Linked DNA regions of Homo sapiens: region 1 is linked to region 2. The links come from fine-mapping of genetic effects on gene expression. A gene starts in region 2. The other region holds a variant in brackets. All regions are shown on one strand. Distances are between the middles of the regions. Region 1 overlaps CRIM1 (cysteine rich transmembrane BMP regulator 1). Region 2 holds the start of FEZ2 (fasciculation and elongation protein zeta 2).

Region 1 (8,340 bases), 51 kb after region 2:
CCAGAATGCTACGAAGGGGAAGAGGAGGACGTTTATTAGAGTATGCTGAGCTGCTGTGGAATGACAGAAGTAAGTCCTGCTCTTTTTCTGGGGCTGTGAGACATTTCAAAAACAGCCATGCAGACCCCTCCCATAGACGACATGAATGAATTAAGAGTCTATATAGGACCTGCTACAGGCGGCTTTCACAATTCCACTTAAACACCTGTGAGCAAAACAAACAGGGCTAACATATTCCTCACTCCACTCAGCAACTGAGACACCATGACTGCAAAGGCAGGGGCGCGGTTTGAAGTTTAATGCCTGCTTGGCATTTCAGCCATCATCTCTAGGGGTATGAGAAACTCGAGATGGTTTCCTTGTTTTATTAATGTTCTTATTTGGAACTTACTGGCCCTTTCCCCAGATACATGTACTTACACAGTAATATTAATAATTTAAATTAATTTGAATTTGTAAAAATGACGCCTTGTACTGAAGAAATGTAGCTTTAAAGGGTATATGATATAGTAGAAAGTCCTTAGGGGGATATATTTTTTTAAAGGAGATTCAACATTGGTCTGTTTATAGCTCATTCTTAAATTGATGCTTCTAAAATGTATGAAAATATACCTATTTATTTTTTCCTGTCAGCTCAAAAAGTCTCTTTGCAGTTAGGCTTCCCCTGATCGTGCTCGGTAAAGTCTTTCTTCTTCAGCATCGAACCACTGTAGGATTTCCCACCACAGTCCTCCTGTGCGTAGCAAGTTAATTTTGATACCAGCTATGAGCACGTTTCTGACAGCAGGTAGGTTTCTTGTCTCCCTAAAAACAGCATCGCTATTCTCTGTACTCTGGGAGACACTTTTCTTTTTGCAAGGATACCTTGGGAAAGACCCGCCTAATGACAAAAGCACGGGACTTCTTGTTACACCAGGGGTTCATTGGACTGATAACCTTAAAAGTCTTTCGGATCTCAGAGATGGAATCTTTTTGCAAGTTACACTGTGTGATTTCAACTCAAAATGTTTATTTCCTGCCAAGAATCAAGTTGCAGATAATTCTCTTACAGCTTTTTTGAAGAAAACAAAAACAAACTGTAGAACTATGATGCACTCCAAGTGCCATATATCTATTTTATTCTTCAGGAAATTATATTTTTCTTTTACAAGAGCACAACAGGAACCAAAGTAAAAGAGTAATAGATACAGCACTCAGGATAAATCATATCTTTAAAATAATAATAAAAAAATTTACACCTTGTCCTATATCCTGTTAGTATTTTCATAATATGGCCATGATTGAAAAAACAAAAAGCAAGCATCTACAATTTTTTTTGATAAAGACTTTTTATGCCAGGAATGGATTAATTACCAACAAAATTTATACTAATCAGGCTGATGTCAATCTATTTTTGTAATGTATCATTAACAAATTTATTTTGGAAAAGATAAAAATATTGCCCCTTGATAATAAATCTTTTTTTCCTTTGATGCAAACAGCTAGAACACCTTTTTCTTTTTCTTTTTGATATTCTAAGACAAAAAAATGGTTAATCTTCAGATTAATAAATTAGGTCATTATAATAATAAATTAATTTTTTTTAAAGTTCAGCAACCTCTGTCCAAGTATTTACAACAATACTTGAAAGTTCCTTTACAAAACAGAACACATTTTCTTTTCACGTTAAGCATACTGGGTATCTGTGTCTTTCACAACAAGCATTTTTAAAAGAAAACTCAATGCACAAATGGGTTAATTAGTATAAAAGTGCTAAGGGCTGTTTGAAAAGTTACCACTATAGTATACAGTCAGTTATATTTGAGGCATACTACAACAAACTTCCAGCTTATTGTGGACAATATTCCAGTAGTTGTTTCAAACCATTGTTTGAAAAAAAAAAAAAAAAAATCCAGGAGCTGATTAGTGATGCAGATAAGAACTGCCATCAATGTCTCTGGCCAGTGAGCAAATTGAAAACCAACTGAAAGCAAATCCAAATGAGGAAGATTTTAATAAAGGAATACCCTTCTCCATAGCAGGTGCAATGCTGACTGCTCAAGGCGTGCGTGCGCGCGCACACACACACACACACACACACACATACATACTCTCACACACACATCTTTCCAATTAAACTGCAGGTAGAATGAGATTTTGTGTTATTCAAAAAATTTGTAAGTGATCAAAAGCACTGCTATGGAATGCCTGTTTATCTGCCTTTGTTCTGGTTAAAATCTCATAAAAATACATTCAACAGGAAAACATAAATTGTATGTGTATAAATATATATGTATATATATATATTATATACACATGCACACAAATACTTTTGTTTTTTGAAGCATAAGATAGTTACATAAATACTCCTATAATTGCTAAAGTTTAAAGAGGCATCATTTTTTTTGAGCTTCAACAAAGGTGCTTGAATAATATACAATTAAAATGAAGTAGTTTCTATTTTGTAGAATCAGTATATAATAAGGAAAAAGAATCCCCAAACAGTCTTTTTAAAAAAAGTTTCTTCTTAAGCTAGAGCTTCAACAAAAACTATGAACAACCAACAATATAACAGAACAAAGCAACAACAAACAGTGAAATATAGCCCCTGGAAATGCCTGGTGTTCGTCACCCTCTCCCTCCTCTTCCTGTCACGTTGTAAAAAAAAAAAAGCTCCAGTGCTCACATCAAGAAATGACTTAGATCTTGTTCATGTGCTGACTCTGCTAGGAACTGGCTGATTGATTGGCTTGGAAGAAAATAAAAGCAGCAAAAAGTGTAACTGTATATATCCTTAATAACCCGCTTTAGAGAAATGCCGCTATCGCATTTCTCTGGCTTCCTCACTGCCTACTGCAGTTGTGACTGTATAGAAAAGAAACTTGTGGCTTTAGACCTGGGATGGCTGTCAAAGGGTTCTGATGTGCTCGTCTGGTAGTTCTAAGGTGGTTATGGCAGCTGGGTCGCAAGGCCTTTTTTGTTTCCTGCTCATTCAGGCCTGAGCTTTGCAGCAACCAGTGCAGTCTTCAGAGCAATAGGAAAAAAATAACCTCTGGGCCACTGAACTGCTTTTATGTTACCAGGTTTCTCCCCGAGCCAAGCTGACCAATTTTTCTTCCCAACACCACCCTCCCACCCATTTCCCCATCCAAACTCACTGTCCCCACCCCAAATATCTCTACAGCTATCTTACAGGCAAATATATCTTAGCAACTTTAAAAACTTTGGTTCTAAGAAAACACTTGGTCAGTTATCTTGAGGAAAAGTGGGAATGCTTGTTCTGCACATTGCTGTAGACAGAGCCCATCCCAGTAAGGTCTTAGCGCTGTACATCAAGTCACAATCCAATACAATCCACTAAGCAAGTGCACAAATTCTAGTTTACTTTTTAGAGCAGATTTAGTCGTCTTCCGTCTTTTGAAACCTCATCCTAGTTGCCTTTCTTCACACTGTTTGGTAGAAATTGTCTGCCTGTAGATGGTTCTGTTTTTGCATGCTGTAGAAGCCACTGAATCTTGCATCTGGTTCTGCAATTCTTAGCATTCTCTGGGAACTGTCCACCTGGACTCTGGTTCCTTTCTTGCAGTCCACAGATACTAGCTGATTATTTAAGGAAGAAGGCTATTTAATGAGAGGAGGAATAAAACCACAAAAAATTAGTTGCTTTACATTATCTCAAATGAACAGAAATTTAGTACCTAACTCAGGTGAGATAACAGTTTCACAATTCATTGATTGATAGCCTGTATGCAGATTATCACATCTTGTTCTAGTACCAACTATACTTTTATGAGGGACACTGACAAACTGTATTTTAAGGTGAAATGTCAAGAAACTGTCAAATAGGGAGATGAAGGAACTGAAAAAAAAAAAAAAAAGACTGGTGAAATGATTTCAAATCCTTGAAGTGCAGACCTTGTGTTTCAAGGGGGCTGAAGAATGAGTGGAAGGTAGGCAGATTTTAAAAACAAAG[G/C]GATGACTTCTAACCACTCAGACTGTACAACACTATCATAGGCTGGGCCAGCCTGTGTGTTGCTAGTCACTCCATACACTTTATGAGCGGGTCTGTTTCCCAGCTTTGGACACTGGCAACTGTATCCTGACCCAGCACAGAGGCTGTGCCCAATGTACATTTGTTCAAAGAAAAATCGGAGGCAGGATAACCGCAGGACAGAATTTTTACATGGAAGGGTTAACCAGATGGTAAATTACATTACATAATTGTTCAGGCTGTTTCCAATTCTTAAGGTTTATGATTAAAATAAACCAACTCAAGGCAAAAGGTAGAATTAGAGTTGGAAGGGATTATGATTTATTTCCCTTAATTAATACAGTTTTTTCTTGTCTTTCAAAATAGGCAGATTTAGAGGCCCTTTATGTTTGTACTGAAAACAAACATACATCTTTTCTCCCTTAGTGTGAAATCTGCCTCTCCCTACCTTGTCTACTATTACTTTCCACCACCTCTTCATCTTTTGCGACCTTTCCACTTGGTGCTTGCCTTTGGTGCACTGACCTGTTCCTTTTGCCTTTTGTATACCCTCATGATCTTCCAGCCCTCTCCTGAGTATTATCTCCATCCCTTTGGGACTTTTTTTCTCTCCCAATTCTAAGTTGACTGATGACTAAGAAATGCCAGGTGATCACGTTTTAATGTCTAATATAAACAATGATTTAGGAATAAATCCAGGAGTATTTGTTCATTTGAAAACTTCAGAGTACATCGAGAAAACTGGATCCATGTAAGGTTAGGCTTCATTAACCAATGGATAATGGATAATTCACCTTGTGATCAGTCCAGCCCTGGGCAAGTACTATGTATTTGATTCATACTATAGCCTGGTATGGATTTGAGGCTATGAAGAGCAAAGTAAAAACTTCACTGGTTAAGACACAAGGTTTCAAGCAATTTCAATATGAGTGTAAGTTTTCCTAGATTCATCATTCAAGAGACTAACTTTTGCAAGACAGTACCTTAGTTGGTGTTCGATACCAGCAAAGCAGTGGTATCCACTGTTTCTTCTGATTGATGAATAGGAATGCTATTATAATAGAGAGGCATATAATTATGGGAACCACAACTGAGGCAATGGAGTCCAGTGAAGAATCTTCACTTGGGTGCAGCCTGTTATCTCTGTAATCTACCTGGAGGTGACCCATATCTAGGAGAAAAAAAATTATAAGCATTTATTACCTAAACCAGAATTGTTAAGGATTATTTTAATGACATTGCAAATAGAGATCAGCAACTTGGTTTTATTGCTTCCCAGTTTTTTGAGGCTAAAAATGTGATTAAAATCTAATGTTGATCCAAAGAGCTCTTAGTAGAGAGCAGAGCGCTTAGGGATGAATGTTAAAAAAAAAAAAAAAAAAAAAAAAAAATCAGAGTGAGAATCTTAATAATTGGGTAAGATGATGCCGGCTCTAGCTAATCAAGGAAATAAGAAGGTGCTTAGGTAGATTTTGAAAAAGTGAATTAGACCATGAAAATATTTTGATTACTGTTAACATACATGGTCTTCTCAGATTTCGAAGGAGAAACATTAGCTGATTTATTGGCAAACAGGAGACTAGAACAAAGTATGTTCTTTTACTATTAATTAATTAGTGTTAATAGCTAAGACTAATTAGATTAAAACTAATCAATCAGGAAGTTGGTCTTTTGGTTGATACTCTGGTTCACTGAACTCTAAGCAATATTGTCTTACTTTTCATAAACTTGTTGAAAATCTTGCTTAGGCCTATTAGATCATTTTTCTGCCTTAATGAATTATATCGCATAGGTGACTACATTTAGTTTTGCACTTATGAATGATGACCTTTATGTTCTTTTAAAATATCTCTCTTACAATGAATGTTGCAGACAAAAATAAGGTTAAACACATACCAATAGGGGGCACTCCCTAAAGTTTCCTTATTTTTATATTCTGTTTTGTTTCAAATAAATCATTGTAGTCAGGTTTTCTAAATGCATTAAAAATCAATTTAGTTAAAGACACATGACACACAGTATCAAAAGGAGTTACTCCTAAATTGTTCTGGAAATTCAGCTCATGAAGTGACAGAGCTTTGTGGTATGTAACACTGTGGTTTAAAACTCAGATTTTAAATGATATGCTTCTGTGTGTGTTCTGGAGGGGTGGTGGGAGCAGGGAGGAATGGGAGGTAGAAAACATTCCTAATCATTTTAGCCAGTGCAGATGGCAATAAAACTTTATAGAAACATATTTTCCAGCATCAAGAAAAATGTCAAAGAGTAACATTTTATTGATGAATTCAGATTTTAAATATACAATGAATAAAAGAATGAATTTTACTTTCCCATATTCCAAATCAAATAGAAAGCAGTTTTAGGAATATGTGTCATACAAGAAGAATAAGATATAAATTAAGGAAGGTCTTGGTGAAAGAAAAATGAAGCTGCAAGTGAGGTCTGTTTACAAAATTCAGTCTTCCAGTTCTGTTTCTGTGCTAAAACCAAGCCATCAAAGTTAGCTTTGAGCTTTGTAGCAGCCAAAGCCAAAAACGGAAACAACTATCAGTCTTTAATACGATTCACAATGTCTTTTAGGTTAAAACAAATCAGTTGCCTAGGAGAAGCATACATTTTCTTGCTATTGATGCATGAGAAAATTTCTCTTTAGGGGCTTTATAACATAGATACTATGCAATGCACAGGTCTTCAGTCATAAGAATAGTCGTACTTACAGTATGTTGAAGTCTAGCCTCTAGAACAGGGTCTGGCATACAGCAGGCACTAATATTTACTGACTGAATGAATGTAAGCATAATGCTAAAGCACACTCAGAACAATTATACAGAGAGCCAAAAACACTAGGTCCAGGAATTTGACTTTCTGGTCATCTGGTTTGATCCAAGCATAACGTTTAGAATATCTAGAGTAACAGACAATTAATCTCTCTCAAGCAATGAATATTGCTTCTTCCAAAAGAAATATAAGTTATATAGCAATGATTTGGAAAATATGGTTGGAGGACACAGGAGGCAGTACTGAGTCACGGCTAAGAGCAAGTTTATACTACTGATCAAGAAGAGGTCTACTTTTATAGAAAAGGAAATAGTGACAGCTATTGGGAGACAAAATAACATCTTTATTACGCACAGACTGAAAGGATAGAGCAAGATAAAAAGGCATGGAGTAAACCTGGTGACTAGAAAAATCAACATAGGTGATAAGTTTAGCTCACATGAAGTGAAAACTGCCCAGAAGTAGAGGGTAACCTAATGTACAAATGCTCAGTGCGGAATCTACAAGAGACAGTGACTAATTCATGATTACTCTCCTTACAAAGTTTATATATACATACGTTTGAGAGATGGCTTAGAAGTTCCAGATACCAGGCTCTTATGACTAGGAACATATTTATTTCCATTTATTTCCGTCATCACAAAGTCTCTGAGCACAGAGGGCCAGGAAGGAGGCATTTAATCCAGTTACCTGCTGACTTATTTTATCAATGTGTGGTGTAAATATGTTTCAGCCAAGCAGGTCTGCCCGGGAATAGTTATTTGAATTTACTTCAGCAAGTCATTTTAAAAGTTACTCATAGGAAATTTTAAAAATTAGAAAACACCTAAGTAGACCACATAGAAAACTAGCAGATCTCAGCTGCCTTCAATGCTTACCTCTAGGGAGATGGACGATATCATTTTCACTAGGCGTGGGCCACAGGGGAACCTCCAGGTCAACCTCTCCTCGATGGTTTGTCTTCTCAATGGGTATATTGGTTGGTTCTGGGACATACATTTCTAAAAGAAGGGAACATTTTTCCTAAGAGATGATGAAGCTGCTGTATTGTTGGCTTTTGTATTCTCAATCCAAATGGTGCACTCAATTCAAGACCACATTTCCTGGGACATGAAAGATGCAGTTTCTGCCATTTACATCATTCATCACTCATGCTAGAGAATCACGAGCTTTGCAGTGAGGAGAAACATGTCTTATAACATTTAAAAGATGAAAGAATTCTCTACTCCACCAGGGTCAAAAACTGCTTTTTCACGTCAAATGGTGTTGGTTTTATAATTTTATGGAAACTGAAGGGGACTAGCTGAAGTTATTTATTACTTTCCAGCAGCTAATAAATGTTGGTGTTTAATAGCTGCTGCTCTTTAATATGGGGGTATTGAATAACTTACATAAAATATGTTAGCAAAACTTGAAAAAGTTAAAGCACTGTCCACTTCTTATGGACTTCTTGGCCATTTCCTCTCCTTTCTCTTCCCCTAAATGGGAATGGACTGTAGGTAGACCTCATGAGTATAAGTCTCAGATGTCCATTATGTTACCACTGGAACCATTTAGATTAGAAGCTGATCTTCAGTAAATATATTTACATT
Region 2 (8,294 bases):
TAAAACAGTAAGGTCAAGTTGTTTGGACAGAAAGGCTACCCGGTGTGGTCCTGGCTCTTGTGTAAGAATTCTGACCGCACTAACCATGCCTAGGAAGGAAAGGAGTTGTTCTTTAGTAAGGGATTGAGGTTTGGGAGATTAATCGGACACGATCAGCAGGGAGAGCACGTGTGTTTTTACGAGAATTATGCCGAGATAGGTAACAGATGAGGATGAAATTTGGGCTTGACTGAAGTAATGGGGGCTGTCTGTGAAGCCTTGCGGCAGTACAGCCCAGTCAATTTGCTGAGCCTAATGGGTGTCAGGGTCAGTCTAAGTGAAGGCAAAGAGAGGCTGGGATGAAGCGTGCAAAGGAATAGTAAAGAAAGCATGTTTGAGATCCAGAACAGAATAATGGGTAGTAGAGGGAGGTATTGAGGATAGGAGAGTATATGGGTTTGGCACCACGGGGTGGATAGGCAAAACAATTTGGTTGATAAGGTGCAGATTCTGAACTAACCTGTAAGCCTTGTCTCGTTTTAGGAGAGGTAAAATGGGGGAATGGTAAGGAGAGTTTATAGGTTTTAGAAGCCCATGCTGTAGCAGGCGAGTGGTAACAGGCTTTAATCCTTTTAAAGCATGCTGTGGGATGGGATATTGGCGTTGAGTGGGGTAAAGGTGATTAGATTTTAATGGGATGGTAATGGGCATGAGATCGGTTGCCAGGGAAGGAGTAGAGATGTCCCATACTTGTGGGTTAAGGTGGGGGGATATGAGAGGAAGACACGAAGGAGGCTTTGGGTTGGGGAGAAGGGCGGCAATGAGATGTGGCTGTAGTCCAGGAATAGTCAGGGAAGCAGATAATTTGGTTAAAATATCTCGGCCTAATAAGGGAACTGGGCAGGTGGGGATAACTAACAAAGAGTGCATAAAAGAGTGTTGTCCAAGTTGGCACGAGAGTTGGGGAGTTTTAAGAGGTTTAGAAGCCTGGCCGTCAATACCCACAACAGTTATGGAAGCAAGGGAAACAGGCCCTTGAAAAGAAGGTAATGTGGAGCAGGTAGCCTCCGTATTGATTAAGAAGGGACGGACTTAACCTCCACTGTGAGAGTTACCCGAAGCTTGGCATCCGTGATGGTCTAGGGGGCTTCCGAGGCGATTGGGCAGTGTCAGTCTTCAGCCGCTAAGCTGAGAAGATCTGGGAAGGAGTCAGAGAGCCTTGGGCCAGAGTTCCAGGGGCTCTGGAAGTGGCTACCAGGTGAGTTGAACAGTCCGATTTTTCAGTGGGGTCCCGCACAGATGGGACACGGCTTAGGAGGAATCCTGGGCTGTGGGCATTCCTTGGCCTGGTGGCCAGATTTCTGGCACTTGTAGTAAGCTCCTGGGGGAGGAGGTTCTGGAGGAACCCCTGGCCGCTGCGGTTCGGGCGTTTGGAAGTTCTTGTGTGCTGGAGATGTGGCTGGGGTTTGTCTCACAGTGGAGGCAAGGAATTGCAACTTTATTCTATTATCGTACACCTTGAAGGTGAGGTTAATTAAGTCCTGTTGTGGGGTTTGAGTGCCAGATTCTAATTTTTGGAGTTTTATTTAATGTTGGGAGCAGATTGGGTAATAAAATGTATATTGAGAATAAGACGGCCTTTTGACCTTTTAGGGTCTAGGGCTGTAAAGCGTCTCAGAGTTGCTGCCAAACGAGCCATGAACTGGGCTGGATTTTTATATTTGATGAAAAAGAGCCTAAATGCTATCTGATTTGGGATAAAGAAAAAGGAGCATTAACCTTGACTATGCCTTTAGCTCTAGCCATCTTTTTAAGAGTAAATTGCTGGGCAGGTGGGGAAGAGCTAGTCGCGGAACTAAACTGTAAGCCAGACCAGGTGTGAGGAGGGGAGGTGATAGAAGGATTATAGGGTGGAGGAGTTGGGGCTGAGGAAGAATTGGGACTTAGCTCGGCCTGGCGACGAGCAGCCTGGGGAGGAGGGGAAAGGTCAGATGGGTCTGTAGAAAAGGAAGACTGGAAAAACTCAGCGACGCTTGGGGTTGGGACTGAGGGGATAGGCAGGAGGGAAAGGAGGATCTGGGAGGAATCGCATTGGGAACAGAGGCTAGGGAGGGAGTGAAGTGTGAAAAATGCCTGGACGTAAGGCACCTCAGACCATTTGCCCATTTTTCTACAAAAATTATTTAGGTCTTGTAGGATGGAGAAATCGAAAGTGCCCTTTTCTGGCCATTTAGAGCCATTGTCAAGTTTGTATTGGGGCCAAGTGGTGTTGCAGAAGAAAATAATGCATTTAGGTTTTAGGTCAGGTGTGAGTTGAAGAGGTTTTAAGTTCTTGAGGACAGGCTAAGCGAGAAGGAGGAGGAATGGAGGATGGAAGGTTGCCCATAGTGAAGGAGGTAAACCCAGAGAAAAGAGAGCGTAGAGACATGGAGGGAAGGGGTTCGGGGTTGTTACCCTCCAGAAAAGCGGGAAGGGGGGTTGGGGCACGGAAATAAGGGATTGGGGCACAGAGATAAGAGATTGGGGTGTGGAAATAAGGGATTGGGGGTTCTTGCCACCTAGAAAAGCGGGACTTGCCGCTAAGGGTGAAGGAGAAGGGGTTGAGGGGTTCTTGCCCCTGCCCCAGAAAAATCACAGAAGGGGTAGAGACAAGGAGAGAAGGGGTTGGGGTACTCGCCCCTTCCTCAGAAAAGCGGGACTTGCCGCTAAGGGTGAAGGACCAAGGCAGGCGTCCCTGCGTGGTCTGACACCTTTGAAACGTGGGTGAATAATCAGAGGCGTCCCTGCAATGATTAAACACCAAGGGAAGGCTGCCTTCCCAGCCCGTGACCGGCGCCGGAGTTTTGGGTCCACGGATAAAACGTGTCTCCCTTGTCTCTACCAGAAAATGAAAGGAACTGAAATTAAGAGAAGGGAGAGATTGAAGTGCGGCGCCAAGATTGAAAGGAGAAAGAGGTTGAGGGATAGTGAGGGAAGCTGGAGAAGACAGTAAAAAGAGGCCGCTTACTGGATTTGAAATTGGTGAGATGTTTTTTGGGCTGGTCGGTCTGAGGACCTGAGGTCGTAGGTGGATCTTTCTCATGGAGCAAAGAGCAGGAGGACAGGGGGATTGATCTCCCAAGGGAGGTCCCCCGATCCGAGTCACGGCACCAAATTTCATGTGCGTCCGTGTGAAGAGACCACCAAACAGGCTTTGTGTGAGCAACACGGCTGTTTATTTCACCTGGATGCAGGCGGGCTGAGTCCGAAAAGAGAGTCAGCGAAGGGAGATGGATTATCATTAGTTCTTACAGGTTTTGGGTCAGGCGGTGAAGTTAAGAGCAATGTTTTGCGGGCAGGGGTGGATCTCACAAAGTACATTCTCAAGGGTGGGGAGAATTACAAAGAAACTTCTTAAGGGTGGGGGAGATTACAAAGTACATTGATCAGTTAGGGTGGGGCAGGAACAAATCACAATGGTGGAATGTCATCCTTAAGGCTATTTTTACTTCTTTTGTGGATCTTCAGTTACTTCAGGCCATCTGGGTGTATATGTGCAAGTCACGGGATGCGATGGCTTGGCTTGGGCTCAGAGGCCTGACAGCTAGATTTTGTATTTTTAGTAGAGACGGGGTTTTACCATGTTGGCCAGGTTGGTCTTGAACTCCTGACCTCAAGCGATCCGTCCACCTGGGCCTGCCAAAGTGCTGGGATTATAGATGTGAGCCACCTCGCCTGGCCTACTCCAATTTTTTTGTATTGTAGTAAAATAAACATAAAATTACTATCTTAACCATCTGTAAGTGTATAGATCAGTGGCATTCAGCACATTAACACTGTCGTGGAACCATCACCACCATCCATCTCCATAACTCTTTTCATCTTGCAAAACTGAACCGCCCAATCACACTTAGTTTTTATGAGGTCTAAACAATTTCTTGTTACTCTTATCACTCCGACATTGTAAGCCCTGTGTATGGGGCACCCATGTATTAGTTATAACATACACATAGGGTATCTACTATTAGGCATTGCTCTAAGTGCTTTGCAAATGTTAACTGGCATAATTATCTTTGTATGTTCTGCAGGATCTAGCCAGTGCTTTGCACGTGAGAGGTAAAATATTTGAGGAATGAACTTCGGTACCACCTAAACATTTCCCATTGACTCTGGCTGTTATTCTGGTTGGCAAGTTAGGAAAGGAGCAGGTTACCTTGGGGAAAACGACTTTCGGGGCGTAATCTGATATTAGGTCGTAAGTTTAAAGAAGTCCTTTATTTTAGCCACATTTAGGCCAAGTTGCTAATAAGGGAAGCTAACAGGGAAGTTATTCCTAAATGATAGAGAATATAGGAAGTGACTCAAGGCAGTTAAGGTCTTGGCTTTCTAGTAGCACCGCGTTCAACTCCAGGAAGACTCAGGCCACCGGAGACCCAGGGTTGGGACAGCCTGGGATCTGTCAGCACGGTAGCGGGCGGGGGCGGGGCTTCGGGCCGGGGCGGGGCCGGGCTGGGCGGGCTGGGCCGGCCTGGGCGGGGCGCGCGACTGCTCCGGGCGGCGATGGCGGCGGACGGGGACTGGCAGGATTTCTATGAGTTCCAGGAGCCGGCCCGGAGCCTCCTGGACCAGGAGAACTGTAACGCGAGCCCCGAGCCTGGGGCGGAGGCGGGGGCCGAGGCGGGTGGGGGCGCCGACGGTTTCCCGGCCCCGGCCTGCAGCTTGGAGGAGAAGCTGAGCCTGTGCTTCCGCCCCTCGGATCCGGGCGCCGAGCCCCCGAGGACGGCCGTGCGGCCCATCACGGAGCGCAGCCTCCTGCAGGGGGACGAGTGAGTGCGGGGCCCCGGCCGGGAGTGGGCGGGAGCCTCCCCTACCCCTCGCCCGACCGGCAGCCCTACGGCCGCAGCTCCTCCCTGCGCCCTCCTTCCGCCCGGACGCGGGAGTCCCCGCCCTCTCGCCTCCTTCCTCCGGCCGTCGGCCTCGGCTCGCCCAGCAATTTAAATCCCCTGCCCCCCGCCGCCACGAGCCCTGAAAACCTCCGCCTCGGTACCTCCCGCCCTCCTTCCTGCAAACCAAACCCTCGTTTGTATTAGAAGGGAATCGCCCATGCAGAGCCCATAGTTAGAGACGGCACCTCCTGGGGCACCTCCTGGGGCACGTGTGTCGCCATTCATTCACTCAAGTCGCATTTATTAAGCACCTGCTGAGTGCCAGGCGCTGCTTCGCACAGGGAACACCAAAACGACTGGGCACTGTCCCTCCCACTTAGGACACAACGTAGGATGGGAGATAGATTTGTAAACAAATACATGTATGGATGTAATTAGCGCTGCAATGGTTATATGTACCAAATGTGAGAGACTTAAAAGCGTGTGTCTTGGGGAGAGTAAGGAACGACTTTATAAAGAAATGTGCAAACGAGATCTGACTGATGAGTGGGAGTGTGCCTGGCAGGTGGAAAAAAGTCTAACGTTCTAGGTGGAGTATATTGCCTGTGCATAAGTACCAACGTGCGAGGCAGCATTTAGGGCACAGGAATCTGTGGGACCCACCCGGGAGCCCTGGTAGAGTGCGAGCCGCCACAGAGACGAAAACGAAGGGCCCTGCTTACTGATGGTAACGATCGCATGGTCTGGTGGGGAGACCAAGGCATACACAAGTAATATTAATAATTACAGAATCACCTAAGAGCAATGATAGGAGGTTCACGGGGTTTTATCACAGCTGGGAGAGGTGAGGCGCAGAGTTCCTGAGGGCACTTTTTAAACCACCTGAGCCGCAATTATAATTTGGTTAAGTAAGAGTTGTAATTAGGTACCATGGTTTTACCCCCAAAAGATGGTAAATAGGAATGGTGAGAGTAAAGGGACTTGAGCATGTTGTGTATATAGGGGGAGAGGAGCCTCCGGAGAGGCTGAAGGTAAAATGAGTGGAATAAGATTGGGCGCGGTGGCTCACACCTGTGATCCCAGCACTTTGAGAGGCTGTGGTGGGAGGATGGCTTGCTTCCAGCAGTTCGAGACCAGACTGGGCAATATCGTGAAATCTGGTCTTTACAAAAAAATTAAAAAAAAATTAGTGAAGTCCGGTGGCGCATGCCCGTGGTCCCACGGACCCAGCTGCCCGGAGGCTGAGATGGCAGGATTGCTTGAGTCCTGGAGGCGAAGGTTGCAGTGAGCCATCATCGCACAACTGCACTCCAGCCTGGGTGTCAGAGCGAGACTTTGTCTCAAAAATGAGGACATGGGAAGGAATGGATTTTCAGAGCATTGATGGGATGGAGAGACTCTTAGAGGTTAGGGAAGAATTTTTGAGAGACAGGACAGGAGTCACGGGCACGGAAAGGAGTTTCCAGCCTGATTGTCTCCTTTCCTTTGTGAAACAAACAGATTTATCAGGAATAAGGTAGGAAGCTTGTAAAGACAGCCTTGGGAGTGGGGCCTGTAAACATGGCTGAGCAGTGGTGCAGGCCCACCTGTGTTTGGAGACCATCTCCTTTTATTGGTTCCTCAGTACAGTGTTCTGCCCAGGTGTAGAGAAGGGAAACACTTATAATTGGATTTTATACACACATGCATGCCGTCAGTAGCAAAAGATGACATTTTTGGAAGCCTGTTCCCAAAGAGAAGATAATTTTATGTATATGTAGATTTAGATACTCTGAATCACTAAACCCAGGACACATTCTGGATTTAAAAATTAGTGTAGATGTATTATGTATTTGGGTTTTTCAAGAGTAGCTGACTTAAATCAATTAGAGGATTGTACGTAGATCGTTAAGAGTTTTTGTTTCACTTAGACCGTCAGGAGAGTAGGTTATTTTAGCCTTTGCTTAAAAATATTTTGTCGCTCTTGTTAATGGTATTTAGTAGATGATATGTTGGTGGTAATGCATGTCTCTTGACTTGGGAATGCATATGAAATCTCTTTTTTTCCGGGAGTTGGGAGCTGGTCATCACTGGCATTGTCCCTTTTATATTGCAAAAACATACTCATCATTGCTTGATAGTCTGTTCCAGTTCCCTTTTCACTAGATATAATTGATAATTGTTTTACTCAGATATTGCTGTGCTTTAGGTCAAGGGGTCCCCAACCCCTGGTCCACAGACCGGTACTGGAACTGGGCCACACTACAGGAGGTGAGTGGCTGAGTGAGTGAGCAAAGCCTCATCTGTATTTACAGCTCCTCCCCATTGCTTGCATTACCACCTGAGCCACCTCCTGTCAGATCAGCCACGGCATTAGATTCTCATAGGAGCGTGAACCCTATTGTGAACTGCACAAGTGAGGGTTCTAGTTTGCAGACACCTTATGAGAATCTAATGCTTGATGATCTGTCACTGTTTCCCCTCTCCCCCAGATAGGACCATCTAGTTGCAGGAAAACAAGCTCAGGGCTCCCATTGATTCTACGTTATGGTGAGTTGTAAAATTATTTCATGATATATGACAGTGTAATAATAGAAATAAAGTACACCGTAAATGTAATGTGCTTGAATCACCCCAAAGCCCTCCCCGACCCTTGGCACTTCATTTAACTTCTCTGAGCCTCAGCTTTTGTTTTGGTTAAATATGGATTGTATTTACGTACTGAGGTTTTACTTATAAGAGTATTCTGCAGGATTCGATGTTGGCAGGACTTTGACCTCCTTGCAAAAGAGCTGTCCTGACCGTTGTTTACGACTGGTTGTAATACTTGGTGATAAAGATGAAGGCAGTTCATATGTCTTGACTGCAGAATTCTAGAAATCTTTCACTAGAGTTGCCTCTGTGTCCTTCCAACTACCATTGTTTTGACCTTGGTGGAGACTGTTAGTTGGCTTTCATTTTCTTGGAAGATCAAACTCACTGACAGGCACTTCTAAGTGAAATATTCCATCCCATTTGCCTTTTTCTTATAGCCTTGTTTAAGAAGGAGCAAATCAGCAGACAAAGCAAACTCCTCAAATTCTGGACTGTCTTCACCTGCTAGTGTATCCTGCTTAAATTCCTGCCAGGATTAGGTCTATAGTCAGTGATACGGTTTGGCTGTGTCCCCACCCAAATCTCAACTTGAATTGTATCTCCCAGAATTCCCACGTGTTGTGGGAGGGATCCAGGGGGAGGTAATTGAATCATGGGGGCTGGTCTTTCCTATGCTATTCTCATGATAGTGAATAAGTCTTACAAGATCTGATGGGCTTATCAGGGGTTTCCGCTTTTGCTCCTTCCTCATTTTCCCTTGCTGCCGCCATGTAAGAAGTGCCTTTTGCCTCCTGCCATGATTCTGAGGCCTCCCCAGCCATGTGGAACTGTAAGTCCAATTAAACCTCGTTTTCTTCCCAGTCTCGGGTATGTCTT

Evidence for each region. PIP is the estimated chance that this variant, and not a neighbour inherited with it, causes the effect.
Region 1: its variant is fine-mapped to the expression of FEZ2 in whole blood (INTERVAL, PIP 0.98).

What each region holds. Positions count from the first base shown.
Region 1 is chr2:36,543,785-36,552,124 of GRCh38, reverse strand. CRIM1 (cysteine rich transmembrane BMP regulator 1) reads right to left here. Exons shown (of 17, transcript NM_016441.3): 15 at 7,627-7,749; 16 at 4,954-5,141; 17 at 990-3,600. The coding sequence ends at 3,424. Among named protein-coding and RNA genes, the nearest start is that of FEZ2, 50 kb to the left of the region's middle. The variant G/C (reference allele first, on the strand shown) is at 3,953.
Region 2 is chr2:36,594,367-36,602,660 of GRCh38, reverse strand. It overlaps FEZ2 (fasciculation and elongation protein zeta 2), which reads left to right and starts at 4,493. Exons shown (of 8, transcript NM_005102.3): 1 at 4,493-4,784. The coding sequence starts at 4,519. RefSeq lists enhancers at 1,645-2,570, 3,498-4,424, 4,425-5,352 and silencers at 4,425-4,644, 4,685-5,044.